2 separate regions of the Homo sapiens genome follow, and region 1 is linked to region 2. Evidence: fine-mapped expression QTL. Tissue or cell type: blood mononuclear cells. Region 2 holds a variant in brackets; the other region holds the start of a gene. All regions are shown on one strand. Distances are from middle to middle.

Evidence for each region. PIP is the estimated chance that this variant, and not a neighbour inherited with it, causes the effect.
Region 1: it holds the start of TMEM45B, and the variant in region 2 is fine-mapped to the expression of TMEM45B in blood mononuclear cells (TOPMed, PIP above 0.99).

The regions. Positions count from the first base shown.
Region 1 is chr11:129,808,911-129,820,849 of GRCh38, reverse strand. TMEM45B (transmembrane protein 45B) reads right to left here and starts at 5,002. Exons shown (of 6, transcript NM_138788.5): 1 at 4,952-5,002. It overlaps LOC124902793 (a long non-coding RNA gene), which reads left to right and starts at 6,163. Exons shown (of 2, transcript XR_007062952.1): 1 at 6,163-6,882.
Region 2 is chr11:129,841,174-129,853,112 of GRCh38, reverse strand. TMEM45B (transmembrane protein 45B) reads right to left here. Exons shown (of 6, transcript NM_138788.5): 2 at 453-638. The coding sequence starts at 630. Among named protein-coding and RNA genes, the nearest start is that of TMEM45B, 31 kb to the right of the region's middle. The variant T/C (reference allele first, on the strand shown) is at 5,426.

The DNA of each region.
Region 1 (11,939 bases), 32 kb after region 2:
ATTGCCGCTAGGGTTCTATACTCAGTATAAACTCAATGAAAACCTTCTACAATGAACGACTTCTAAGACTATACATTGATTTATGTTGACCAAAGCAGATAATTAAAAAATAAAGTATACCCTCAAGAGGAGTGAGGCAAAAAGCTAACAGAAATAAAATAAAGTCGCTTTTGCTAAACTACCTGACATTCGGTGTTTCTCAAAATGTATTCCCGCAACCACCTGCCCTCAGATGACCTGGCGTGCCCGTCCATAATGGAGAATTATAGACCCAGCCCAGACCTACATAATCAGCAGTTCTCAGAGTGGTCCTTGCACTCTACCATTTAAAAAAGTTCCCCTGGACCCACTGCATTACCCATTGCTTTTTAGTAAAACAAACAAAAAACCAAAACAAATAACAACCTATTTAGAGACAGGATCTATGACTCATAAAACACACTATGGCAGATGCTGCTAGCTGCCTACCCAATGTTCATTCTCCCCCCGCCTTATTAACAAAATTCCTATTTTGTTGTTATTATTATTTTTTTGAGATGGAGTTTCGCTCTTGTTGTCCAGGCTGGAGTGCAAGTGGCATGATCTCGGCTCACTGCAACCTCTGCCTCCTGGGTTCAAGCGATTCTCCTGCCTCAGCCTCCTGAGTAGCTGGGACTATAGGCGCCTGCTAGCACGCCCGGCTGATTTTTTGTGTTTTTAGTAGAGATGGGGTTTCACCATGTTGGCCAGGCTGGTCTTGAACTCCTGACCTCAGGTGATCCACCCGCCTTGACCTCCCAAAATGCTGGAATTACAGGCGTGAGCCACTGTGTCTGGCCCAAAATTCTTATTTTGATGTATTGGCAACGTGTCTGTCTCAAACACTAGATTCTCTCTGGTTCCGTCACCGTTAACAGTGTGTATGTGATATGGTTCTGGCCAATGACATGTAAGAAGTCTTTTGGGGTGGGCTACCAGAAAAGCTGTTATTATTATTATTTATTATAAAGAAGGACAGGCCAGGCGTGGTGGCTCACATCTGTAATCCCAGCACTTTGGGAGGCCGAGGGGGGCAGATCACAGGGTCAGGAGTTCAAGACCAGCCTGACCAACATGGTGAAACCCCGTCTCTACTAAAAATACAAAAATTAGCTGGGCGTGGTGGTGCACGTCTGTAATCCCAGCTACTTGGAGGCTGAGGCAGGAGAATCACTTGAACCCAGGAAGCGGAGGTTGCAGTGAGCCGAGATTGTGCCACTGAGAGAGACTCTGAGTCAAAAGAAAGAAAGAGATGAGACAGAGAGAGAGAGAGAGAAAAGAAAAGAAGAGAGAAAAGAAAAGAAAAGAAAAGACAAGACAAGACTCTTCTGGAGCATGCCTCTGCCCGTCTTTCTGCTGCAACTTGCGGAAGTGAGTATGAAAGCTCCATGCTAAGGAGGGTGGTGCGGGAAGACACAAGGAGCCTGTCTCAGATGACGTTCATATCGGAACCCCTTTCCCAGCCCCAGCCTTCTCACCTCCAGACTTCTCGTTCTCTGAGAAAAACAAACTCCTTACTTGTTTAAGCCGCTGTAGTAGGGTTTTCTGTTCTTGTAGCTGAATGAACGTCTAATGACATCTCACACTTTTTCAGATGTTTATCTGACATACCACATTTTATGTATGCCTGCTATGGGCACTGTGCTAGGAATAAGACAAGTAAAGCTCTCTTTGTCATGGAACCAGGAGCACAGTTAGAACAGAAGTTAGAACTTTAGCCACTATAATAACGGCTACAGTTATAATAACAGTTAGAACAGAAGGTCCATAGGCATTTGAGGCTGGGATTCAAGGAGGTTATGTTTGCTGTCACAGACCTCAAACCAAAAGAGTACATCAAAATAAGTCACTGGATTTATACATTTGGCAAATTCTCAAGGGACCACATGACAGAAGGAGCAAAAATCTGAACATTGTTTTTAGCTGTAATTCTCCAATGAAGTAGATTTGGGGAAGCAACATGAGGTACTTGCTTTATTTTTCTTAAATCCGGTTTTCTTCCTTGAAAAACCACAAGATTGGACTTGACAATCTTTAAGGTTATACTCAGCTCTAAGATATTTTTGTAATTATATGGAACAAAGATGGGCATGAAATATACCAAACGAGAGAGTTTCTAAATTTAGATTCTGATAATTCAAGTCAGAAAACATATTAAGTGTTCGGGAAAAACAAATCACAATCTTCCATCACAAAATTCAACAAGAACAACAAAAACCACTCCAGAGGCAGCTGTGGTATTCTGGAAGGAATGTTGGTTTGAGTTCTGGCTCTGCCATTTAATTACTGGCTAACCCTGGACCACATACACAATATCTCTGTTTCCATCTCCTCATTTTTGAAATACGGATTCTAATCTGACCTGAACAGTGCTGTTTACAAACATCGCCTTGTGCTCTATAAAGCCCCATTATGATTTCAACAACCAGCAAGATAATGGCTTATGATATCTAAGTCCTGGCAAGGAGAATGCGGGTGTGTACCTTGCTATATTCAGTTGAACTCTGCATCACATACAGAAGGCTGATAGACCTTTTAGCTTTCCTTTTTCCTCCAGTAGTGTAGCTTGTGGCCATTTAAGTTTTACACAAGAGAATAGAAAAGAGAGATAAAATTTGCTAAAATTCAAATAGTCTATTTGTGTTTGTTTCTAGCCTCAGTGAAGGTTTTGGGGAGAGGGGTAGCTGGTTAAAAGAGTAGAAGCTTAAGAGTTCAAAGAAAGTGTGAGGAGGACAGCACTCACCTGTGGCCTCTAATTGTTCATATTCAGTATGGTCTCATACTGGGAATAATCTAGTGTTTGTCTTATGATCTTTCTATAGAAACAAATATGGAATGTGTCTATAAGTACCATTAGTTGATGACACACTAGTGACTTTAATTCTCTTACAGTAAAAAGTTTTGCAATAGCAAGGACTTTGGCTAGGGGAGTGACTCTATGTGTGGTGAAACTGTCCTCACCCATTTTTCATTTGAGGAAAAGAGATAATCTTTTGATTACACCCAACACAGGTAACATCTGTACTTTGAACAGTTAAGTATAGCAGCTGATGTTTAACTGCAGGTAGGGGGGAGATGAGAAACAGAAATAACTGGTGCCAAATGTGAGATTCAATTACCTCGACCATCACAACCAACATCAACCAGAAGGGTGTGGGAGGAACTCATGGAATAAATGGGAACAGGTGTGGCCTGAGGATAAGTAAGTGGGGGCACTGTTTCCATCTTCATGAAGATGTGAGAGGAAATCAAAGCTCTTTAAAAAGAAGGAAATGGAATGCTTGGCTCCTGTAATATCAGAACAAATAATGCACAGCCAGAGGTCATGCCTCACCTTCTGCTTATCTCAGTCACCTCCACTTGTAAAATCAGTGGGCCATATTCAATAAAACCTTCATATCAGTTCCATATCTTTTCCCAGAAACCCCAGGAACAGAGGGAGCCAATATCCTTATTAAACCAAGAAGCTCACTGTCACAAAGAGCTAAGTCTGACGCCCCTGGGCCCCTACCTAACCACGTGTCCTGATTCTTTCCATAACTTCCCACTGCACAACATCCAGGTTATACTGAAGATATTACACATCTGGTTAAAAACAGTACACGTCTCTCATGAACAATAAGCCATCCTTTCTATTAAAATGAGTGTAAAATTGCAGGTAAAATGCTGTAGGCAGGCCTGTTTGGAAGGCTATGCGACCCTAGGAGACAAAAAGGTGCAGGAGGAGGAAAAGGGCAGACACCGCAGAAAGCGGTCGAAGAGAACGTGAAAGAAGTGGCCATTTCTAGCTGGGCGCGGTGGTTCACGCCTGTAATCCCAGCACTTTGGGAGGCTGAGGCGGGTGGATCATGAGGTCAGGAGATCGAGACCATCCTGGCTAACACGGTGAAACCCCGTCTCTACCAAAAAAAAAAAAAATACAAAAAATTAGCCGGGCGTGGTGGCGGGCGCCAGTAGTCCTAGCTACTCGGGAGGCTGAGGCAGGAGAATGGTGTGAACCCGGGAGGTGGAGCTTGCAGTGATCCGAGATTGCGCCACTGCACTCCAGCCTGGGCGACAGAGCGAGACTCCGTCTCAAAAAAAAAAAAAAAAAAAAAAAGAAGTGGCCATTTCTGCAACTTTTAGGAGAGCTACCTGCCCTCAAATTTTGAAAGGGTTTCTATTTCTTAAAGTGCTACGTTTCCCTGGCTGAAACTCACATCTTTCTTCCCTCTAGGGCTGGATCAAAGCTTCAGAGGTTGTTTCTCTGGCCCTAGACAGGGCCACCCCCGCAAATTTCTCCCCCACTGCGCCTGACATCCGCTTCCATCCATGGCTCCATTAACGGAAGCTAAGCACTGGCTCGGGGGACTTTATCCACCGCCCGGTGTTATTAGATTCCAGGCTTCCTGGCCTCAGGAAAGGATCTGGCTCGTGTATTTGTGTATCGCAGCTAACAAGGAAAGGCAGTCGGTACCAGTGCCCAGAGCTATGTGAGCTGTGACTGGTCACAGCCCAGGAGCCAGATGGCATCCCCGGGGGCGCGCGTCCCCGGACTCACCGGGCAGACGGAGGCCCGGGGCTTCACACCTTCCCCTCACCGGGCAACGCGGCAGACCTGACTCGCGGGGGACTGAGCAATATTCGTTCCAGGGCCGCGGCCAGCCGGACAGAGGCACTCGGGGGCGGTGGGAGTAGTGTGCGCACCGGTTCCGCAGCCCGGAGGGGGCCCCAGCTGGGCTTCCGCGACACCAGGGCCCTCCATCCCCTCCCGTCCTCCCCTAGCGCAGCCTTCACCCCTGTCCCAGAGCCCCTCCCTGTCCGCGTCCCCTCCCCCGCAGGTCCCCTGCGAGTCGGAACCTCCTCTCCATCACAGCCCCGCTCCTTGGCGGGGCCCCCTCTCCCTTCGAGCCCTCCTCCAGGTTCGAGCCCCCTGCGGGTACGGACGTCTGACCTGTGCCCAGCGCCTCGCAGCCGTCTGCAGCCCGCGCCGCGCGCCAAGTGCGTCCGCCCAGAAGCAGGTGCAGCTCCAGGCCCGCCCCGCCCCGCTGCGCCCCGCCCCGCTCCACTCCGCCAGGCCTGGCAGCCGCCAGCCCCTTTCCACCCTTGACCGCCCTTCCCGGTCCCGGCCAGCGTGCGGGGCATCTGTCGTCAGGTCCGCACTTCCTCCAGGCCTTTGACTTTCCCGTGGAGATGTCTCTGGCCTCAGGAACTCCCTAAGCTGTGTGCTTCAGGAGAGGCTGGTTCCTGAGTCACCCAAGAGGACTGCAACCAACCTGGACCTCCTGAGATGCAAAGAGATCGCAGGGCCTGGGAGGCGGCGAGGACCCTGAGAACAGGCTGTGGCTCCGAAGAGTGTTTGTTACCAAGCCAGGCAACCACTGCGAACACACCGCAGAAACAGCCACGGATCACCGTCCAGCAAAGGAAGAAGGTGCCAACGGTCCATCAGGGACCACAACCCAGTTTTTTTAGTTTAAGTTTGGTGGCTAAGTTTGAGTGTCACATAGTTCATTCATTCCTTCATTCATTCAACAAATCTGCCATGTTCCCATCTGATAACAGATCTGACAGGTGGGCACTGTTCTAGGTGCTGGCGATAGAGCTAAGAAGGAAACAAAGTTCCTGTCCCGGAGAAGGGGGCTACCTGCTGAGGAGAGCATGACTTTCTTTGTGGTATTGTGCTGTGGCAGCAGGGTCCTCTTCTGTAAGCTACTGAGAGGTGAAACCCGCTGGGCTTCTGGGTCGGATGGGGACTTGGAGAACTTTTCTGTCTAGCTAAAGGATTGTAAAAGCATCAATCTGCACTCTGTGTCTAGCTAAAGGTTTGTAAACACACCAATCAGCACTCTGTAAAAATGCACCAATCAGTGCTCTGTGTCCAGCTAATTGGTGGGGACTTGGAGAACTTTTCTCTCTAGCCAAAGGATTGTAAATGCACCAATCAATGCTCTATGTCTAGCTAAAGGTTTGTAAACACATCAATCAGCACTCTGTAAAAACGGACCAATCAGCACTCTGTAAAATGGACCAATCAGCACTCTGTAAAATGGACCAATCAGCGCTCTGTAAAATGGACCAATCAGGAGGATGTGGGCAGGACCAATCAGGAGGATGTGGGCGGGGCCAATGAGGGAATAAAAGCTGGCCATCCGAGCCAGCGGCAGCTGCGTTTGGGTCCCCTTCGATGGTGTTGGGGTTTTGTTGTTTCGCTCTTTGCAATAAATTTTGCTGTTGCTCACCTTTTAGGTCCACACTACCTTTATGAGCTTTAACACTCACAGTGAAGGTCTGCAGGTTCACTCCTGTAAACCAGCGAGACCAGGAAGCCACCACAAGAAACAACTCTGGAGCCGCCACCTTTAAGAGCCATAACACTCACTGTGAAGGTCTGTGGCTTCACTCCTGAAGTCAGCGACACCACGAACCCACAGGGAGGAGCAAACAACTCCAGACGCACCACTTTTAAGAGGTGTAACACTCCCTGCGAAGGTCTGTGGCTTCACTCCTGAGGTCGGCGAAACTACGAACCCGCTGGGAGGAAGGAACAACGCGGATGCGCCACCTTTAAGAGCTGTAACACTCCCTGCGAAGGTCCGCGGCCTCACTCATCAAGTCGTGCATAGACCACGAACTCTCTAGAAAGAAAAAACTTCGGACACACCTGAACATTTGAAGGAACAAACTCCGGACACACCATGTTTAAGAACTATAATGCCGTGAAGGTCCGCGGCAGGACCGGGACCAGGAACTCTTCAGAGGGAACCAATTCCGGATACACAGCTTCGTGGAATGGTTCTGCACTGTGTGTGTGTGTGTTTCCCGTCAACCCTGTGCACACTATTAGAAGAACACAAGCGTTAAGGCTCCCTCTCAGTCCTGCCGGTAAGAATCCAGGGCTGATGCACCTATTAAAAGCTTCTCAGGAGGCCTGGGGAAGTGGGGGTTGAGAACCACGGGTCTAGATCTCTAAGATGCCTGGCAGCTTATTCCACTGTTGAGGGCACTGGCAATCAGGAAGGGCTTCATGGAAGAGATGTTTGCATTTGGGTTTTAAAGCAGGGCCACAGCTAGATATTAGCAGTGCAGAAGGACACGGGATCCGACGGGCAGCCTGTTGACCAAATGGCTCCGTTTTTATAAAGTCAAAGAACATCACTGTGAAGGATAAGGCATTAACTGGAGCAGACCTTTCCCTGGTAAAACAGAGCGAATGGGATCTGGTGGGAGGTGGTAATGGCCAAGAGGTAGTGCCGTCAGTGAAAAGCGTCATGGAGTCGTGCACCTTACAGGGAGGATGGGCCGCAGCCAGGAGCTGAGAGGGCATCTTTTAAATTTGCCGTCAGCTCAGGAACTTAATCACACATCTCATCCTAGCCCTTGCTCACACCCATTGTTTTAGAAATCGTTGATAGAGTGGAGTCCTGGATGCCTGTTACTCTGGGAGAGGCTGTCCTCTGTCACCAGATCCCTTTTATGGACAGGCATTTTCTTTAGTAATATTTACCTTGTCTACGATGATGAAACAAAGGTGTGACCTCTTAATTGTATAGTTAATGGTGAGTAGAGATGCTTTTTTTTTTTTTACTTTTTATTTTTGAGACAGTTTTGCTCTTGTTGCCCAGGCTGGAGTGCAATGGCGCGATCTCGGCTCACCACAACCTTGGCCTCCTGGGTTCAAGTGACTCTCGTGTCTCACTCTCCTGAGTAGCTGGGATCACAGGCATGCGCCGCCATGCCCAGCTAATTTTGTGTTTTTAGTAGAGTCGGGGTTTCTCCATGTTTGTCAGACTGTTCTTGAACTCCCGACCTCAGGTGATCTGCCCACCTCAGCCTCCTAAAGTGCTGGGATTAGAGGTGTGAGCCACCTCGCCCGACGGAGATGCTTCTTAATATTAAAAAATCTAAACAAAATAATTTCTGCTTCAAATTATAATAACCAGGTACCAGGACAAAACCAATTTTTTGTTGTGTGTGTGTGTGTGTGTTTGAGACGGGCTCACTTTGTTGCCCAGGATGAAGTTCAGTGGTGCAATCATAGCTCACTGTAGCCTCGACCTCCAACGCTCAAGAGATACTCTTGCCACAGCTTCCTAAGTAGCTGGGACTACAGGTGTGCATCAACACGCATGGCTAATGTTTACATTTTTAAAAATTGCAATAGTTTTTGGGGAACAGGTCATTTTTTTGTTACATGGATAAGTTATTTAGTGGTGATTTCTGAGATTTTTGTGTACTCATCACCTGAGCAGTGTACACTGTACCCAATGTATAGTCTTTTATCCCTCACCCTCCTCCCACTTTCCCTTGAGTCCCCAAAGTCCATTATATATATATATATATATATATATATATATATATATGTATGTATGTATGTATTTTTTTTTTTTTTTTGAGACAGTCTTGCTCTGTCGCCCTGGCTAGAGTGCAGTGGCGCAATCTCAGCTCACTGCAACCTCTGCCTCCCAAGTTCAAGCGATTCTCCTGCCTCAGACCTCTGAGTAGCTGGGACTACAGGCGCGTGCCACGACGACTAATTTTTTGTATTTTTAGTAGAGACAGGGTTTCACCATGTTAGCCAGGATGGTCTCAATCTCCTGACTTCATGATCCGCCTGCCTTGGCCTCCCAAAGTGCTGGGATTACAGTTGTGAGCCACTGCACCCGGCCCATTATATCATTCTTATGCCTTTGCATCCTCATAGTTCAGCAAACCCTTATAAGTGAGAACATACACGATATTTGGTTTCCCATTCCTGAGTTACTTCACTTGGAATAGTGGTCTCCAACTCCCGTACAAATTGCTGCAAATGCCATTACTTCAGTCCTTTTTATGGCTGAGTAGTATTCCATGGTGTAAATATATCACATTTTCTTTATCCACTTGTCAGTCGAGGGGCATTTAGGCTGGTTCCATATTTTTGCAATTGTGTATTTTGCTCCTATAAACATGCAGATGCAAGTGGCTTTTTCATATAATGACTTCTTTTCTTCTGGATATATACTCAATAGTGGGACTGCTGGATCAAATGGTAGTTTTACTTTTAGTTCTTTAAGGAATCTCCATAAAGTTTTCCACAGTGGATGTACTAGTTTATATTCCCACCATCAGTGTAAAAGTGCCCTTTTCATCACATCTATGCAAACATCTACTATTTTTTGACTTTGTAAATTATGGCCAGTCTTGCAGAAGTAAGGTGGTATTTCATTGTGGTTTTAATCTGCATTTCCCTGATAATTAGTGATGTTGAGCATTCTTTTTCATGTGTTAGTCATTTGTGTATCTTCTTTTGAGAACTGTCTATTCATGTTCTTTGCCCACTTTTTGATGGGATTATTTCTTTTTTTCTTACTGATTTGAGTTCCTTGTAGATTCTGCATATTAGTCCTTTGTAGGACGCATAGTTGAATATTTTCTCCCATTCAGTGAGGTGTCTGTTTACACTGCTGATTATTTTGCTGTGCCGAAGTGTTTTCATTAGGTAATATCTATTTATTTTTGTTTTTGTTAGATTTGCTTTGGGGTTTTTGGTCTTAAAATCTTTGCCTAAGCCAATGTCTAGAAGAGTTTTTCCAGCGTTATTTTCTAAAGTTTTTATGGTTTCAGGTCTTACATTTAAGTGTTTGATCCATCTTGAGTTGATGTCTGTATAAGGTAAGAGATGAGGATCCAGTTTCATTCTTCTGTATGTGGCTAGACAGTTATCCCAGCACCATTTGTTGAATAGGGTGCCCCTTCCCTATTTGTGTTTTTGCTTTCTTTGTTGAAGATGAGTTGGTTGTAAGTATTTGGCTTTATTTCTGGGTTCTGTATTCTGTTCCATTGGTCTATGTGCCTATTTTTATATTGGTACCATGCTGTTTTGGTACTGGTATAAATCTTGTAGGATAGTTTGAAGTCAGTTAATGCGATGCCTCCAGATGTTTTTTTTTTTTTTTTTTTTTTTTTTTTTGCTTAGTCTTGCTTTGGTTATGAGGGGTCCTTTTTGGTTCCATATGAATTTTAGATTTTTTTTTCTAGTTCTGTGAAGAATGATGATGGTACTTTGATAGGAGTTGCACTGAATGTGTAGATTGCTTTTGACAGCTTTCACAATATTGAATCTACCCATGAGCATGGGATGTGTTTCCATTTGTTTGTGTCATCAGTGATTTCTTTCAGCAGTGTTTTGTAGTTTTCCTTGTAGAGGTCTTTCACCTGCTTGGTTTTATATATATATATATGTGTGTGTGTCATAGATAGTTTTTATTACCTTGAGGTATGTCCCTTCCATGCCAATTTTTCTGAGGGTTTTAATCATAAAGCAATGCTGAAATAACATATTATATATTATAAAATAAAACATTATAATATATAATATATATAATACATATAGCAGCTGTTGTAAAAGGGATCGAGTTCTTGATTTGTGTCTCATCTTGGTCACTGTTGGTATTTAGTGGTGTTACTGACCTGTGAACATTGATTTTTGTATCCTGAAACTTTACTGAATTCATTTATCCAATCTAGGAGCCTTTTGGATGAATCTTCAGAGTTTTCTAGGTATACAATCTTATCATCAGTGAACTGCAATAGTTTGACTTCCTCTTTACTGATTTGGATGCCCTTTATTTCTTTCTCATGTCTGATTGCTCTGGCTAGGACTTCCAGTACTATGTTGAATAGAAGTGGTGAAAGTGAGCATCCTTGGCTTGTTCCAGTTCTCAGGGGGAATGCTTTCAACTTTTCCCTGTTCAGTATAATGTTGGCTGTCGGTTGGTCACAGATAGCTTTTATTACCTTGAGGTATGTCCCTTCCATGCCAATTTTTCTGAGGGTTTTAATCATATAGCAATGCTGAATTTTGTCAAATGCTTTTTCTGCGTTGATTGGGATAATATGAGTTTTGTTTTTAATTCTGTTTACTGGATATATTACATTTATTGACTTGTATATCCCTGCATTCCTGGTATGAAACCCACTTGACTATTGCTGTATTATCTTTAAAAAAATTTTTTTTATAAGTTATTGGGGTGCTGGTGGTATTTGGTTACATGAGTAAGTTATTTAGTGGTGATTTGTGAGATTTTGGTGCACTCATCACCTGAGCAGTATACAAGGCACCATATTTGTAGTCTTTTATCCCTTGACTGCCTCCTATTTTTCTCCCCAAACCCCCAAAGTCCATGGTATCATTCTGTGCCTTCGCATCCTCATAGCTAACTCCCACATATCAGTGAGAACATAAGATGTTTGGTTTTCCATTCCTGAGTTACTTCACTTAGAATTATAATCTCCAGTCTCATCCAGGTCACTGCAAATGCTGTTAATTCATTCGTTTTCGTGGCTGTGTAGTATTCCATCACACACACACACACACACACACACATATACTCACACACATATATATATATACACACACACACATATGTATATATACACGTATATATGTATATATATGTATACGTGTATATGTGTGTGTGTGTGTGTGTATATATATATATATATATATATACACACACCACAGTTTTTTTAATCCACTCGTTGATAGCATTTGAGTTGGTTCCACAATTTTGCAATTGTAAATTGTGCTGCTATAAACATGCATGTGCAAGTATCTTTTTCAAATAATGACTTCTTTTCCTCTGGGTAGATACCTAGTACTGGGATTGCGAGATCAAATGATAATTCTTTTAGTTCTTTAAGGAATTTCCACACTGTTTTCCATAGTGGTTGTACTAGTATACATTCCCACCAGCAGTGTGGAAGTGTTACTGGTTCACTGCATCCACACCAACGTCTACTGTTTTTTTGATTATGGCCATTCTTGCAGGAGTGAGGTGGTATCTCATTGTGGTTTTGATTTGCGTTTCCCTAATCATTAGTGGTGGTGAGCATTTTTTAATGTGTTTGTTGGACATTTGTATATCTTCTTTTGAGAATTGTCTGTTCATGTCCTTAGT
Region 2 (11,939 bases):
AGCGCTTGAGACTTGAGGATGAAGATAAGCCAGTGGGTTGGGTGTTAACTACTGTAAGGATCTGGAGGGAGAGACAATTGAGGAAAAAAGGTGATTTTTCTACTTTGTCACAACTAAGGTACGTGAGCCTAATCTATTTTGTTTTTTTCTCTTTTTATTTGTGTCATATCTTTTTCATACAGTGGGTGTTTTGCTCCTACAACTTTCCATACCTGTGTCCTTGTTGATTTGAGTTTTTCACAGTGTCCCATGATGTGAGAGCTGTCAACCGTTAGTATTATAAAGCTCTGTACACAATGGATGTTACGATAAAATAGTCTAGTGGCCATCAGGAAATTGTTGCCCTATTATCTCTGCCAGTGGGAACATCTATTTCACAGGGCTCAGAAAATGAATTAAAGGTTCTGGGTATGATGAGGAGATTCCCTAGACCAAATGACCCCTGCTCTTACCAGTGACGGAAAACAAAGTCCTAATTGCGGCTTCGACGATCTCGAGACGCTGATAGTAATGTAGTGGGCTGTTCTTCCGCGTGTGGCTAAAGTACTTCAGCGGGTACTTCACTGACCAACACAGCCCAATGATCAGGAAGAAACTCCCTGGAAGCGCGTGGCCCTTGAAATTTGCCATCAGGACACCTAAAAAATTAGGGGAAGGCTGTTAGGTGGCTAATGAAGCAAGCAAACAAATGTATATTTTGGCAGGAAACACAATACGTGCCTGAGATTGCAAATCATAAGCCACGTTAAGAAGGATCAACACATTCTCATAAAACAAGCCTTATGTTACGTCACTGAAGTCTCATCTGTAAAGTGAGTTGCATAACCAACTGGACTCCACTGTCTGTAATGCTTTAAACATGTGGGTAAAATAAAAGGATGAGGGTGGGGAAAGAGGAGGATAGGTAATATTTATTGATCTCAGATAGAGAAAACTTCCAAGCCATAAACATAAAGGGGGGAACTAGAAAAGAAAAACGTTCAGCTATATAAGCATCTTTTAATATCAAGAACATCAAAAGGTAAACAACAAATCAGAAACATGCTTGTAGCAGTTGGCTATTACATTAGAGTCTTTACAAATTGATAAGAAAAAGACCGTAGAAGAATAGGCAGAAGACATGAACGGATGATTCACAAAATAATACAAACAAATTATAAATCTCCCGGAAATTAGAGATGGGCAAACGAAAGCACAACATCATTTTTCACCCAACTGGAAAATAATTTTATAAAGTTTTGGTGTGGTGGTCTAGTACAAATGAACCTGGTCAATATGATTCACAGTTTGTAAAAATCAGCATAACGATGTAAACATCACCTTATTCCAAAAATTTTCAGGCATGATTTGCTGTTATCCCATTTGCAGTAGCATGAAACTATAGCTAGGATTTATTCAGAAGTAGATTGATTATTTTCCCCACTGGCCTGGGTGGTTACCTAAAGAATATGTAGGGTGGGAGAAAAATACCAGTTGTTGGTGATTGCTGTGGTTTGAATGTGTCCCCTCCAAAATCCAGGTGTTGCCAAGGTGATAGCATTAAGAGAAGGGGACTTTTTTTTTTTTTTTGAGGCAGAGTTTCACTCTGTCACCCAGGCTGGAGTGCAGTGGCACGATCTTGGCTCACTACAACCTCTGCCTCCCAGGTTCAAGCGATTCTCCTGCCTCAGCCTCCCGAGTAGCTGGAATTACAGGCACCCGCCACCACGCCTGGCTAATTTTTATATTTTTAGTAGAGACGGGGTTTCACCATGTTGGCCAGGCTTTTCTCGAACTCCTGACCTTAGGTGATCTGCCCACCTCGGCCTCCCAAAGTGCTGGGATTACAGGTGTGAGCCACCACACCCGGCCGAGAAGAGGACTTTTAAGAAGGGACTAGGCCATGAGGGCCCCTCCCTCCTGAACTAGGAGCAGATGCCCTCCCTCATACAGGGGTTGGCTGGAGGGAGCTGGTCCCCTGTTTGTCCTCCTGCATGTGAGGATGCAGCCCTCAGCAGACACCAGATGCTGCTGCCTTGATCTTGGACTTCCCAGCTTTCAGAACAGTGAGAAATAAATTGTTGTTCTTTATAAATTACCCAGTCTGCGTATTGTGTGATATCAGCACAACAGGGACTAAGACAGAAATTGGTACCAGAGGAGTTTATAACATTTATAACCAGGGGTTATAACAAATATGTAAAAATGTGGGGGTGGCTTTGGAACTGGATAATGAATACAAGCTGGAACAGCTTTGAAGTGAGTGCTGAAAAAAGCCTGGATTGCCATGAACGGAGCACTAAGGATGATTCTGGTGAGGGCTCAGAAGAAGAGGAGAGCTGTAGATGTGGGATATGAGCTGTGGGGAAAGCCTCGTTCTTAGAGATTGCCTAAGTGGTCATGAACAGAATGTTGATAGAGATACCGATGGTGAAGGCAATTCTGATGAGGTCTCAGACAGAAATAAAGAACAAGGTATTGGAAACTAGAAGAAAGGTTATCCTTGTTAGAAAGTGGTAAAGAACTTACCTGAATTATGTCGTTTCCTAGGACTTCATGGAGGGCAGAACTTAAGAATGATGACCTAGGATATTTGGCAGAAGAGATAGAAAGCAAAGTGTTCAGGATGCTGTGTGGCTTCTCTTAACTGCTTATAGAAAAACATGAGAGGCCAGGTGCGGTGGCTCACGCCTGTAATCCCAGCACTTTGGGAGGGCGAGGCAGGCAGATCACCTGAGGTCAGGAGTTCGAGATAAGCCTGACAAACATGGTGAAACCCTGTCTCTACTAAACATAAAAAAATTAGCCGGGCGCGGTGGCAGGAGCCTGTAGTCCCAGCTACTCGGGAGACTGAGGCAGGAGAATCGCTTGAACCCGGGAGAGGGAGGTTGCAGTGAGCCGAGATCGCGCCATTGCACTCCAGCCTGGGTGACAAAAGCAAAACTCCATCTCAAAAACAACAACAACATCAACAAAAAAAAAAACGTGAGAAAAGAGAAATAATTTGAAGGCAGAATTTACCATCAAAAGGAAAGCTAAAGGTCAATATCTGAAAAATTCTCAGCCTAGCCATGAAAAAGAGAAAAACGTGTGTGTAGGAGAGAAAACCACGGGTATGGCCACAGGACTGATAAGCAGGTTAGTATGTGTAGAAGGAAGCCAGGTGCTAGTTATCAAGAGAACGGGAAAATGACCCCAAAGTCATTTCGGAAAATGACTCCAAAGCCATTTCGGAGAATGACCCCAAAGGCATTTGGGGCTGCCTTGCTCATTAGAGGCCCAGAGGGTTAGAGCCTTGCGGCAGAACAGTTTCAGGGGAAGGGCCCAGGCGCCTGCGGGGTCTCAGAGATCACTGCCTAGGGCCACCTCAGGTCTCTGCTCCCCACATTTCCAGCAGAGCATTCCTCCGTCACCCTAGCTGTGGCTCAAGCAGGACCAGGTGCAGGTTGGGCCACTGCTCCAGAGGGCGCAAGTTATAAATCTTGGTGGCATCCATGTGGTGCTGACTCTGTAGGTATGCATACTGTATGAGCTGTGGGAGCACGGCCGCCTCCACCTCGATGGAAAGGATTTCTTTGACCTCAGGGCCCGAGCAGAGATTTGTCACCGGGGTGGAGCCACTGCAGAGAGCCCCCAGTAGGCCAATACTTAGGGAAGCCTTGGAGGTGGTATCACCTGGAGCCTTGGGGGCCCAACACCCACCCCAGTGTGTTCAGAAGGTGAGATATGGAGTCAGATAATATTATTCTCAAGCCTAAGATCTAATGTTGAGTTTTGGACTCACTTGAGACCTGTTGTTACTCCTTTCTTCCTTCCTGTTTCTCCCTTTTGGACTAGAAACATCTGTCCTGTGCCTGTCACGCCATTGTATTTGAATCAAAGTACGCAACTCATTTGAATTCACAGGCTCACAGCTGGAGAGAAATTTGCCTCAGGATGAAATTTATCTCAAAGTGAATGAGTCTCTCTCACACCTGACTTAGATAAGATTCTGGACTTAGATTTTAAAGTTCATGTTGGAATGATTTAAGGCTTTTGAGGGCAATTGTGGTGGAATGAATGTATTTTGTTTGTGAGAAGTACGTGAATTCTGGGGGGCCAGGATTGGAATGCTATGGTGTGAATGGGTCCCCTCCAAAATTCAGGTGTTGCCGGTGTGATAGTATTAGATGTGGGGCCTTTAAGAGCTGATTAAGCCATGAAGGTTCCTCCCTTGTGGATGGGATTAAGCACCCTTATAAAGGGCTGAATGGAGGGAGTTGCTTCCCTTTTTTGCCCTTTCTGCCATGTGAGGCTACAGCCTTCAACAGACACCACATACCAGTGCCTTGATATTGGACCTCCAAACCTTCAGAACTGTGAGAAATAAATTTGTTCTTTATAAGTTACCCAGTCTGTGGTATTTTGTTGTAGCAGCACAAGCAGACTGAGACAGTGATCTAGAAAAGACCACCCCGGAATGTAAAGCATTCCTGGTCTGCACAGCATATTCCAACCCTGGACACAGGCCCGTCCCTCTAGCACCAGCTACATTGTCAGGGCTGTTTCACATCTTACACATTGACAGATGAGGGTCCCACCCATCATCAAGAACTTCATAAGCCCTCTCCCTCTCCCTCTCCCTCTCTTTCCACGGTCTCCCTTTCATGCCGAGCCGAAGCTGGACTGTGCTGCTGCCATCTCGGCTCACTGCAACCTCCCTGCCTGATTCTCCTGCCTCAGCCTGCCGAGTGCCTGGGATTGCAGGCCCGCGCCGCCACGCCTGACGGGTTTTCGTATTTTTTTGGTGGAGACGGGGTTTCGCTGTGTTGGCCGGGCTGGTCTCCAGCTCCTAACCGCGAGTGATCCGCCAGCCTCGGCCTCCCGAGGTGCCGGGATTGCAGACGGAGTCTCGTTCACTCAGTGCTCAATGGTGCCCAGGCCGGAGTGCAGTGGCGTGATCTCGGCTACAACCTCCACCTCCCAGCTGCCTGCCTTGGCCTCCCAAAGTGCCGAGATTGCAGCCTCTGCCCGGCCGCCACCCCGTCTGGGAAGTGAGGAGTGTCTCTGCCTGGCCGCCCATCGTCTGGGATGTGAGGAGCCCCTCTGCCTGGCTGCCCAGTCTGGAAAGTGAGGAGCGTCTCTGCCCGGCCGCCATCCCATCTAGGAAGTGAGGAGCGTCTCTGCCCGGCCGCCCCTACTGGGAAGTGAGGAGCCCCTCTGCCCGGCCACCACCACCCCATCTGGGAGGTGTACCCAACAGCTCATTGAGAACGGGCCATGATGACAATGGCGGTTTTGTGGAATAGAAAAGGGGGAAAGGTGGGGAAAAGATTGAGAAATCGGATGGTTGCTGTGTCTGTGTAGAAAGAAGTAGACATGGGAGACTTTTCATTTTGTTCTGTACTAAGAAAAATTGTGCCTTGGGATCCTGTTGATCTATGACCTTACCCCCAACCCTGTGCTC[T/C]CTGAAACATGTGCTGTGTCCACTCAGGGTTAAATGGATTAAGGGCGGTGCAAGATGTGCTTTGTTAAACAGATGCTTGAAGGCAGCATGCTCGTTAAGAGTCATCACCACTCCCTAATCTCAAGTACCCAGGGACACACACACTCTGCCTAGGAAAACCAGAGACCTTTGTTCACTTGTTTATCTGCTGACCTTCCCTCCACTATTGTCCTGTGACCCTGCCAAATCCCCCTCTGCGAGAAACACCCAAGAATGATCAATAAAAAAAAATAAAAAAAAATAACTTCATAAGCTTTTAAAAAAATGCTTACAGTTTTCAGAAAATCAACTCGTATGAAAGACTTATAGTGAAAAGCAACAGCCTCATGTTCTGTCCCTCCTCACCCCCAGCAAAGCCACTTTCAACCCTTTCAGCTGTTTCCTCCGGTATTTACCTCCACCATTGTAGTTAATGGGTGGGTGCAAACGTAATGGCAAAAACCACAATTACTTTTGCACCAACCTAATGCTTTGTGCATGTGGTCATTTGTTAATCCATCATTGTCAGGCATCACCTACCAACTTCCTGGAGCTCTCTCACAGCCTCTCCCTCTTCCCCACCCTGCTATTTTCATAGCAGTTGCATTATACTCGTTTGTTGAAATCATTAGTTTCATTATCATGGCTCTGTAAATCCAAAGTCCTTACCAGGGCCAATAAGGCCATATACGATCCTGAGCCATCTCTTTGATTTCTCCCAGCACTCATCCCCTGCCACACTGGATCCCTTCCATTCCCTTAAATGGCTGAGAACACTCCATTCCTGCTTCAGGACATTGCACTGTCTGTGGCTTCTAGAACAGTGTTCCCACAGGCAGCCAACAGTTGTCTCCTTCACTTTACTCAGGTCTCTGTTCAAATGCCACTTTATTCCGTGACTCCTGCATGTACAATAGAGGCCTGCCCCACTTTTCAATCTATGTAGACTTGTAACTTTTCTGTAAAGTATGAATCACCATCTGATATTGCAGACTGATTTTTTTTTAAGCATCTGTCATCATCCACTAAAATGTGGGCCTCTGGAAAGCAGAGATTTGATCTATTTGCTTATTGTGGTTAGTCCACAGCTTACCGCAGGGCCAGACACAGAGTGAGCACTCAGTAAATACTTGTGGAATGAATGAATGCAGATCCAAGTAGTGTATTATGGGTTATGTTTTCTCTAACACTTTTTTTTTTTTTTGAGAAAGAGTCTTGCTCTGTCGCCCAGGCTGGAGTGCAGTGGCATGATCTCTGCTCACTGCAACTTCCACCTATGTGTTCAAGCGATTCTCCTGCCTCAGCCTCCTGAGTAGCTGGAATGAAGGATGGTGCCACCACGCCTGGCTAATTTTTGTATTTTTAGTAGAGACAGGGTTTCACCATGTTGACCAGGCTGGTCTTGAATTCTTGACCTCAGGTGATCCACCTGCCTTGACCTCCCAACATGCTGGGATTACAGGCGTGAGCCACCGCACCTGGCCTAACACTTTTGTTTTATTCTGGGGTTAATAATTGCATTGTTTTTTTACTTGTTTATCTTCCCAAATACTGATCACTATGTTTTTCCTCCAAAGGGCTAAAAGATCTGTCAAATGTTGACCAAATTAAATTCTAGACATTTTAACCTCAGATAACTTATTTCTGTTTTATTCCTAGAGACCTGTTTTGAGAATATTCTCTTTAAAATTGAACTGGCTGTCTGTCCTCCTGGGGCATTCTGCACCATCTTACAAATTCCCTTTGCCTTTTTCTTGTTTTCCACCCACCCTACCTTTTGCTGCAGCTTCCAGAAGAGGCTTTTCCTTGTTTTGGATCCCCTGTTTCTTGGATGCCATTTATTTTTCTTTCTTGGCTTATTTCCATTAATATAAGTCTAGCATTCCCAAAACTATGCATAAAAGGGAAATTCCTTGAGAATTTGCATAGTTGACAATCTCTGCCTTTTTATTGGGACGGTTTATTTAGTCCATTCATATTAATGTAATTATTGGTGTGGTTATATTTATAGTTGTCATTTTGCTATTTGTTTTCTGTCACTCATGCATTTTTTTGTTCCTCCGTGCCTCATTTCCTGCTGTCATTTATGTCTAACAAGTAATTTTAGTATACCATTTTAATTACTTTTTTCATATTTTAAGCTATATATATTTTTTTCCTACTGCATGCTCTAGTCTAGGGATTATAGTATGCATCTTGAAGTTACCATGGTCTATTTTAATAGTAACTTAATTCTGATAAAATATAGTGACTTTGTTCCAATATATAATAGCTCTATTTCCTACCCCTTCCTTCATGCATACACACACACACACACACACACACACACACATCTATAATAGCTCTATTTCCTACCCCTTCCTTCATGCATACACACACACACACACACACACACACATACACACACACAAAATAAGCCATTAATATATATGAATGGACTAAATAAGCCACTCTAATAAACAGGCAGAGACGTGTGCGTGTGTGTGTACACATATATGTACATATCATATTTATGTTTGGGCTTGTTATAAAGTTTTTAAGATTTAAGAATATATAAAGTCTAGGTTATAAACTAATGGTGTGGCAATTATTTCTTGAAGCAATTTTACATTTTTCAAAGCATGAATATATATATATTCTTTGATATTTAATCACATATTTACCATTTCCAGCGTTCTTCATTTCTTTCTGTCCATTTTAATAACTCTAAAACCTCATTTTCTTTCGACCTGAAGGATGTCCTTTAATATTTTTTCAGCTTTATTGCGGTATAATTGACAAATAAAAATTGTATATACTCAGGGTATATAACATGATGATTTGATATATGTATACATTGTGAAATGATTGGTATGATCAAGCTAATTAACAGAGTTATCACCTTACCTGGTACCCTTTCCTTTCCTTTGTAATGAGAATCCTTAAGATCTACTCTCTTAGCAAATGTCAAATATAAGGTTTATTATTATTACTATTATTTTTAGAGACAGGGTCTCGCCCTATCACCGAGGGTGGAGTGCAGTGGCATAATCATAGTTCACTGCAGCCCTGAACTTCTTGGGCTCAAGTGATCCTCCGCCTCAGCCTCATAAGTAGTTAGGACTACAGGTGCAGGCCACCACGCCTGGCCAATTTAAAAAATTTTTTGTAGAGACAACGTCTCGCTATGTTGCCCAGGCTGGTCTTGAATGTTTGGGTTCAGGCTATTCTCTCGCCTCAAACTCCCAAGGTGCTGCGATTACAGACATAAGCCACTGTGCCTGGCCAGTATATTATTATTAATGATAGTCACCCTCCTGTACATTAGGTCTCCAAAATTTACTCATAACTGCAAGTTTGTACCCTTTGACCAATATCTCCCCATTTCCCCCACTGCTCCAGAACCCTGGTAACAGGTATTCTATTCTGTTTATATCCAGTTTGATTATTTTAGATTCCACATATAAGTGAGATCACACAGCATTTTTTCTGTGTCTGGCTTATTTCCCTTAGTATAAGGTCTTCAAGGTTCATCCATGTTGTTGCAAATAGCAGGATTTCCTTCTTTTTTAAGGCTGAATAATATCCCATTCTATATATATATACACCACATTTTTTTTGTCCATTCATCAATCAGTGAACACTTAGATTGTTTCCATATCTTGGCTATTGCAAACAAAGCTGCAGTGACCATGGGAGGGCAGATATCTTTTCAAGATAGGGAGTTTATTTGCTTTCGATATATACACAGAAGTGAAATTGCTGGATCATAGGGTAGCTCTATTTTTAATTTTTTGAGAAACCTCCACACTGTTTTCCATAATAGATGTACCAATTCACATTCCCACCAACAGTATGTAAAGGTTCCCTTTATCCACATCCACACCAATCTTGTTTTGTTTTTTGTTTTGATTTTTTGGCAACAGCCATCCCAACAGGTATAAGGTAATATCTTATTGTGACTTTGATTTACATTTCCCTGACGATTAGTGATGTTGAGCATCTTTTCATAAACCACTTGGCCATTGTATGTCTTCTTTAGAGAAATGTCTATGCAGGTCCTTTGCCCACTTTTTTTTTTTTTTCTCAAAGCAGAAAATTTATTGCCTACATTCTTTGACTACAATGCTATAACAACAGAAATATTTTCTTTTACAAAAATCTCAATCACCTTAAACATTTTTTAAGTCACTAAATAACTTTGGGTCAAAGAAGAAATCAAAACTGCAAATACATAAAAGCAAACATCAATTGGCATTGTATACATTAGAACATATGAAATAGATTATAGTAAACAATTATTAAAACACAAAGAATCCAGGATGCGGAAAGCTGGGATGAGTATTACACCCTAACAGCAACGATAGCAGATAAACTACAAAATCATAACTTTTCCTAAACTCATTTGAGAACTGAGATCATAGGGCAATCAAAAAGTCTAAAATAGGCTGGGCACAGTGGCTCATGCCTGTAATCCCAGCACTTTGGGAGGCTGACTGAGGCAGGCGGATCACCTGAGGTGAGGAATTCAAGACCAGCCTGGCCAACATGGCAAAACTCCATCTCTACCAAAAATACAAAAAATTAGCCAGCCGTGGTGGCGCATGCCTGTAGTTCCAGCCACTCGGGAGGCTGAGGCAGAAGAATCGCTTGAACCTGAGAGGCGGAGGTTACAGTGAGCCGAGATTGCACCACTGCACTCAGCCTGTTGCCTACTTTTTAATAGGGTTATTTGTTTTTTACTATTGAGTAGTAAGAGTTTCTTGTATATTTTGGATTTAGCTCCTTATTGCATATATGGTTTGCAAATATTTTCTCCCATTCTATGGGTATCTTTACTCTCTTCATGGTTTTCTTTGCTATGCAAAAGCTTTTTACTTTGATGCAATCCTACTCCTTTACTTTTGCTTTTGTTGCCTGTGCTTTTGTTGTCATATCAAAAAAGAAATCAACGCTAGCACCAATGTCATGTATCTTTCCCTGCATATTTTCTTCTAGGAGTTTTACCATTTTAGGTCTTACATTTAAATCTTTCATCCACCTTTAGTTGATTTTTGTATATGGTGGAAGATAAAGATCCAATTTCCTTATTTTTTTTTGCATGTGGATATCCAGTTTTTCCAGCACCATTTATTGAAGATACTATTCTTTCCTCATTCTTGTTCTTGACACCTTGTAGAAGATTAGTTAACCTTATATGAGTGGGTTTATTTCTGTGCTTTCAATTCTGTTCCATTGCTCTATGTGTGTTTTTATGCCAGTACTATATTGTTTTGATTGCTATAGCTTTATAATATAATTTGAACACAGGAAGTGTGATGCTTCTGGCTTTGTCCTTCCTGTGTGGTTCTCTTTGTGTTTTTTAAATTCAGTGTTGGTTGAGTTTTAAAAAAAATCTGCAATTCAATATCTTTCATCAAACCTGGGAAGCTTTCAGCTATTACTTCTTTATTTTTTTCTCTCTCCCTTTCTGCGGCTTCCATTACACGTATGTGGGGACATTGAGCATCATCCCATGTGTGTCTGAAGGTCTGTTCATTTGTCTTCATTTTTCTTTCTGTTTTTCGAATTGGATCATTTCTATTGGTCTATTTTCATGTTCACTAGTTCTTCCACTATCTCAAAATCTGCTATTGAGCCCATCTAGTGAATTCGAAATTGTACCTTCCAACTCCAGAATTTCCATTTAATTCTTTTTACAGTTTGTATTTCTCTATTTAGATTCCCTATTTGTCGAGTCATTTAAATCATATTTTCTTTTAATTCCTTGAACAGTTTTCTTTAATTCTCTGAGGCCGGGCGCAGTGGCTCATGCCTGTAATCCCAGCACTTTGGGAGGCCGAGGCGGGTGGATCACTTGAGGTCAGGAGTTCAAGACTAGCCTGGCAAACATGGCGAAACCCCATCTCTACTAAAAATACAAAAAATTAGCCGGGCGTGGTAGTGGGTGCCTGTAATCTCAGCAACTTGGGAGGCTGAGGCAGGAGAATCACTTGAACCCAGGAGGTAGAAGTTGCAGTGAGCTGAGATCACGTCACTGCACTCCAGCCTGGGCGGGCGACAGAGTGAGACTCTTGTCTCCAAAAAAAAAAAAAAAACAAAAAAACAAAAGAAAACTTCAAGCCCATTACACTTCCAACCCCTGTCAGTCCCTCTGTGTGGGGGTTGGAGAAGGCCAGTTTTCAAGTCCCTTATCTCCCTTGCTGGGCTCTCTCAGGTCTTCTCCATATATGCATAGTTTTTTCAGTCAGCCAGGGATGCGTGAAGAGCTCACTTCAATACTTCTCTGATTCTCATTTCCAGAATCCCCCTGTTAAATTCCTGGTTGGCCTGCTGCTTGCCCCAAGTGGGGCTGCAACCTCAAGCTAGCGAAGCTGTGGATTTGTCCTGCTCATTTCCAAGTGTTCATTCCCATGTTAAGCCAGCAAAGCCAAGGATTTTCAACCCCCCAGCCACTGCTCTGAATTGAATCTGTTTGTGTGGCAGTTTTCATGGCCAGCCCCATCTTACTTAAAAG